Linked DNA regions of Homo sapiens: region 2 is linked to region 1. Evidence: fine-mapped expression QTL. Tissue or cell type: whole blood. Region 1 holds a variant in brackets; the other region holds the start of a gene. All regions are shown on one strand. Distances are between the middles of the regions.

Region 1 (2,755 bases):
TTTTACTAAAAGTTATACAAAACAAATTCTTGGAAAACCATAAAGGAGGTTAGGTGAAATCTAACAATATTACATACTTTTAAATATCTTTTCATTCAACAAATGTTTACTGTTACTATGCTTAAGGCACTATGTTAAGGGTTTATGTATGAAGAGTTCTTGCCATGTGTGGAATAATTCAATCTAGCTGGATTATCAAACACAGGAAGACAGCTGGTATACACTGTCAACATCCTCCTTTTCCTCAGTATTTCCCCATACGCTCTTTGTGTTAACATCTTGCCAAATTCAGGCAGTTCTTTAAAGTGCGATATGCAGACCCCTGCAAGGTCAAAGCTCAGGTGCTTATTTTTCTTTTTCTGTGCTTGCACTGATGGCACAGAAGTTATAAATCTGCAGTTTTAAAAAAATTCCAGTTTCACCTGAAGCAGTTAAAAATCATTAACTTTATATCTATTCTTGATGCTCAAGTACCTATATTTTTCAACTTGTGTGGCAAAATGGAAAGCACACATAAAGTACTTCTTATACCAAAGCACCATGGTGGTTTTAAGAAAATCCACATATACAATTGTTTCATTTGTGAACTGAACTAACCACTCCTCATGCAGCACCATTTTTATGTAAAAAAAAAAACTATGGCTACTCCGACTTGGTTATCTGACAGCCATTTCCTCCACTAACATTAAATCTGCACCAAATAACTTCAAGACAGTAAAATCTAACATTTTTCACCCTCCCCTGTCACCTTTTTTTTTTTTTTTGAGACAGGGTCCCACTTTGTCACCCAGGCTGGAGTGCAGTGGTGTGATCTCAGCTCACCGCAACCTCCACCTCCCAGGCTCAAGTGATCCTCCTGCCTCAGCCTCCCAAGTAGCTGGGACTACAGGCCTGTGCCACTGTACAAGTACAATAAAATGCCAGTCCTTATATATTTGACTTCTAAGCAATATGTAACATTACTGATGCCGCCCCCACTCTCTTCCTTAAAACAGTATCTCTTGCTTACATAAATTCAACAGGGAAGAAGGGAAAAAAAAAAAAACTACCAAGGTTTTACTTGTACAATTCACAAACTGATCCTTCTCAGTTTCCTCTTTCTTTGCCTGATACAACCTTTATTTTTGTGTTCTATGGGTTCTTTTCTTCCAAGTGACTTCATGGTATTAGCTACTTAACACTTAAGCAAAGAATCATTAAAATAGCTTTTAGTCTTCAAAAGCTAAACAAACATAAGCTCTTGAACTTAAAACACAAGAAATTTTTAATATGTGAAAAAACAAAAGATTATATATGGCAACCAAAACACAGTTCTTCCCCCACAATATCTATCACTATGCACAAAACAAAAAGATATTTTCAATATTTCTGCGCAGGTTTTCATTGAGCTTTGCTTCAAGTTCACCTAGTTCTTCTTCTGCTTTTCTAACATCTTTTTGCAATTCAAGTCGAGACTTCCTTGTGTC[A/G]TAATAACCCCCAGTTAGAGCACCCCGATGGCTGACTTGGTCACCTATAAACAAAACATATGTAATAGGTCTGTACAACTTTTTTATTCAATGATAAATTGACTTATAACAAAAAAACTAACCTACAGGCTTTAAGTAGATAATGAGAATTGAAAGTAATTTAAACCACCCTGAAAAAATTTTGCTTTTCAATGCTAGATTTTTTTTTTTTTTTTTTTTGAGACAGGGTCTTGCTCTTGTTGCTCAGGCTGGAGTGCAGTGGTGCGGTCATAGCTCACTGCAACCTCAAACTCCTGGATTCAAGTGATCCTCCTGCTTCAGCCTCCTGAGTGGCTAGGACTACAGGTGTGCACCACCACACCTTTTTTGTAGAGACCAGGTCTTGCTATGTGCCCAGGCGGTTCTCGAACTCCTGCCCTCAAGTGATCCTCATGCTTTAGCCTCTTAAGTATCTAGGATTACAGAGTCAAGCCACTGTGCCCAGCCAAAATTTGCAGTCTTTAAAAAAAAAAAAAAAAAAAAAAGAACCTCCAGTTGAACCTGAACATCTACCAGAGGGGAAGGAAGTGAAGACTAAAGAGGAAATATTAGTAGGACACAGGACCTAGCTTGAAATTTCCACTGGCCATATTTGGGAAAATTTGAGCATCAAAATAACAATACCAATGTAATAACATATTGAATTAAAAAAAAAAAATTCATGAATCACAGTGATACTTTTTTAAAAAATGAAAATTGGAGACTCTTTTCTACAGAAGAGTGACAGCTAATAAATGCAGCAGCAATAACAGAATTTATGAATCACCATTTTGAAACCCCCCAGTGTAACAACTGATTCAGGCAAGAGTCAACAAAGTGCTAAAGCAACTGAAGTTGTTGGGAGAACCTGACTTGAAGAATAATCTCACATATTATTAAATTACAAAGGGGCAAAGGGATACCTTTACAACGGAGAGATCTGCAGGTGATCAAACCTAGTATCACTAACAATGGGACACATTATATGACACCATAAGTACATATCATTCATGTAGCATTCATGCCAACAATATTTAAACAATGATGAGGAAGCAATAAGACAAATCCAGAAAATGGAACTTTTCTGGATTTCTCTGGGTGGGGAGAAGGGAGCAGGAGGAACTGTCTTATATTTAAAGAATCTAGACCGGGCATGGTGGTCATGCCTGTAATCCCAGCACTTTGGGAGGTTGAGGCAGGCAGATCACCTGAGGTCAGGAGTTCGAGACCAGCCTGACCAACATAGAGAAACCCCGTCTCTACTAAATACA
Region 2 (2,755 bases), 29 kb after region 1:
AGACTATAAATATGACCGAGTAAACCAAGAACACTTACCAATCACATTATGTTTTGAACTGAAGGGATCTACAATTGTTTGATCTCTGTAACTTCGAAAACCCTGGATAATCACCTAGTAAATAAAAAACATTTTTGAGAACCCACCCCACAAAAAAAATTAACATTTTTCTCTTGCATTTCTTTCTTGTTTTTCATTTAATGCAATATAGAAAACTCGAAATTTCATATAAGAAAAATTCATTTTGGAAAGTGGTGATTAAAAATCTGCTAAAAAAAAAAAAAGGTACTTTTATCGGTAATCTTTGCCAAGGCAATGCTGCTGGGTTTTATTTTTTTTTAGGAGTTATGCTGTCAACCTGTTAAGGACCTTTCAAAATCAAAAACACTGTGTGAGCTTAACTGAACCCTAAACGCTGCAGTACAATAGCAAGTCTATAAAAGCAGGCCGACGGGCCCCAGCTCTCCTGACTCCAAGACCACCGAGTGCTGCTTTCAGTCACTCACGCCGGCCAGCCTGAAAGAACCCACGTTCCAAAGAAGGAGTGCTCAGAGCCCGACAGACCCAACAGAAAACCGTCTCCAAGGCCGTGTGCCTGGGCTCATCTTTGTGGTGGAGTCCCGCGCGGGAAGACCATTTTGACAGAAGTAAACAACCGAGGGAGGCGGCGCTCCGTATCCTGCAAGCAGGAGGGTCCCGCTCACTTCGCGGGTTAACTGGGGAGAAGAACGGCTCCCCGCAGTGACAGGTGACGACACCCCAGCCAATGCCCCCAGGGCCGCCCCCGGGCCGGGGAAGCCACCTTTCCACACATCCCAGGCACATGGGCCGTGTGAGGCCACCCCTGCAGGACCACACAGCCCTTCCCGCCCGCGGCCGCCCCGGCGGGGTGCCCCCCGCCAGCTCTGGGGCCACCCAGGAAGGCCCAGTCCCTCCCAGCGGCCCGCCCGCCGGCCCTTCCACACCTCTCGGAGATCCTGCCTCTCCCAGACAAGCGCCAGCAGGGAGGCCGGGGCTGCAAAGGAGTGCCCCAATTCTCCGCGACCCCGCAGCCGGGGCACTAGCGGGACCCGGGTCTCCCTCCTCCCCCACAGTCCCCGCCCAGCCCTGGTCCAGCCTGTGGAGACAGGGGAGAGGCTGCGGGTGGCGCCGCAACACTCCCGCCTCAAGGAGCGGCCCTTACCGGCCCATGACGGGGTGGAGGGACGCGAAGGCCTTACCTGCTTTATGTACATGATTCCGGGCCCCTGGCCTGGAAGGAGACCTGCCCCGGAGCAGCAACCGCACGGCCGCAGGGTCAGGTGAGGCGCCTACGCGACCCCTCCCCCAAAGCGCCGCTCGCTCCCCTCAGCCAAACAAAATGGCGGCGCTCGTGGGGGCGGAGTCCGCGCCTCGGACGGAACCACCTTGCAGCCTTCACAGGGCGTAGGAGGAGTCAAGTTCAGGTCTGCTCTTTCTTTTAGGCAAAACCAGTCCTCCACAGCGTTTTTTGGTGGATTTCTTTTGAATCTAGAATTCTGTAGCTAACGCTTTCCTGAGACTTAGTCAAAAGCTTCACTCGGAAAATCTATGACCGTAGGGTTGGTCCGTACCACCTCCGAGCGCGGGGCCAATGGTCGCGTCCACAAAGGGGGAAAGGTTCCGCGCCAAAGCCAAGAGGGAGACTCCGAGGGCCAGTAGCGCCGCGGGCTGTCGGCCACGTGATTCCGCGCTGTTTAAAAAAGCGGACCTCGCGCGCACTGTGCTAGCCTTGGAACACATGGAATGCTGGTGATTCTTGGAATTCTGTGTGCGGAGTCACTGCTGCCCCTTTGTTATCGCTCTCCATAGGAACGTTTACAATCTTAGCACGCCCCAAGCTGGTTACGAATTGCCCACTCGGAGGACAACCCCGAAGGGATTTGTCAATGCTCGAAAATTTGTTTTAATAATGTGATGATTAATTCCGTCGGGAACTGTTTCTGTTCTACCATCTGCTATAAATCTAGGCAGATCTGTACAATTGCAACAAAGATTTAGGTAAGGCTGAAAGCTTTTAATCCACTTTAAAAACAAAAGAAAACAGCCTGAAAGATACTAGGTGCTAGTGGCAACCCTAGGTCTGTCTGATCCTTGTCAGTCTTGGGAGAAAAACATCATTTGTTTAGAAAATGAATCTCTGGGCTGCTCTGAAATTACTTGCTGGGAAGAGAACAAAATAACTACCCAAATCATCCCCAGCCCCACCCCCGCCCGCTGCTGGAGACAATTCTGGCCCTAATTATTTCTAGATTGAACTATTTTTAGTAGCCTCCTAACTGCCTCTGCTAACCAGGGTATCTCCCTAGGAGTCCTTTATCTGGAGCCCGGATCAAATCCTATCCAGCCCTTGGTTTAAAAAAATAAATAGGCCTGGTCGAGTGGCTCAAGCGTGTAATCCCAGCACTTTGGGAGGCTGAGGGGGGAGGATCACCTGAGGTCACGAGTTCAAGACCAGCCTGGCCAGCATGGCGAAACCCCCGTCTCTACTCGAAATACAAAAATTAGCTGGGCGTCGTGGCGGGTGCCTGTAATCCCAGTTAGTCGGGAGGCTGGGGCAGGAGAATTGCTTGAATCCAGGAGGCAGAGGTTGCAGTGAGCCAAGATCGCGCCACTGCACTCCAGCCTGGGCAACAGAGCGAGACTGTCTCAAAATAAATTAAATAAATATGTAAGCATTTTCTTTTCTTTATTTCTAACTTTTTTTTTTTTTTTTGACAGGATCTTGCTCTGTCAC

Evidence for each region. PIP is the estimated chance that this variant, and not a neighbour inherited with it, causes the effect.
Region 2: it holds the start of SMC3, and the variant in region 1 is fine-mapped to the expression of SMC3 in whole blood (INTERVAL, PIP above 0.99).

The regions. Positions count from the first base shown.
Region 1 is chr10:110,595,153-110,597,907 of GRCh38, reverse strand. It overlaps SMC3 (structural maintenance of chromosomes 3), which reads right to left. Exons shown (of 29, transcript NM_005445.4): 19 at 1,358-1,510. Among named protein-coding and RNA genes, the nearest start is that of SMC3, 29 kb to the right of the region's middle. The variant A/G (reference allele first, on the strand shown) is at 1,467.
Region 2 is chr10:110,566,297-110,569,051 of GRCh38, reverse strand. It overlaps SMC3 (structural maintenance of chromosomes 3), which reads right to left and starts at 1,357. Exons shown (of 29, transcript NM_005445.4): 1 at 1,221-1,357; 2 at 39-114. The coding sequence starts at 1,235. LOC105378483 (a long non-coding RNA gene) reads left to right here and starts at 1,744. Exons shown (of 2, transcript XR_946318.2): 1 at 1,744-2,019. RefSeq lists a silencer at 748-1,037 and enhancers at 1,378-1,477, 1,488-1,537, 2,352-2,755.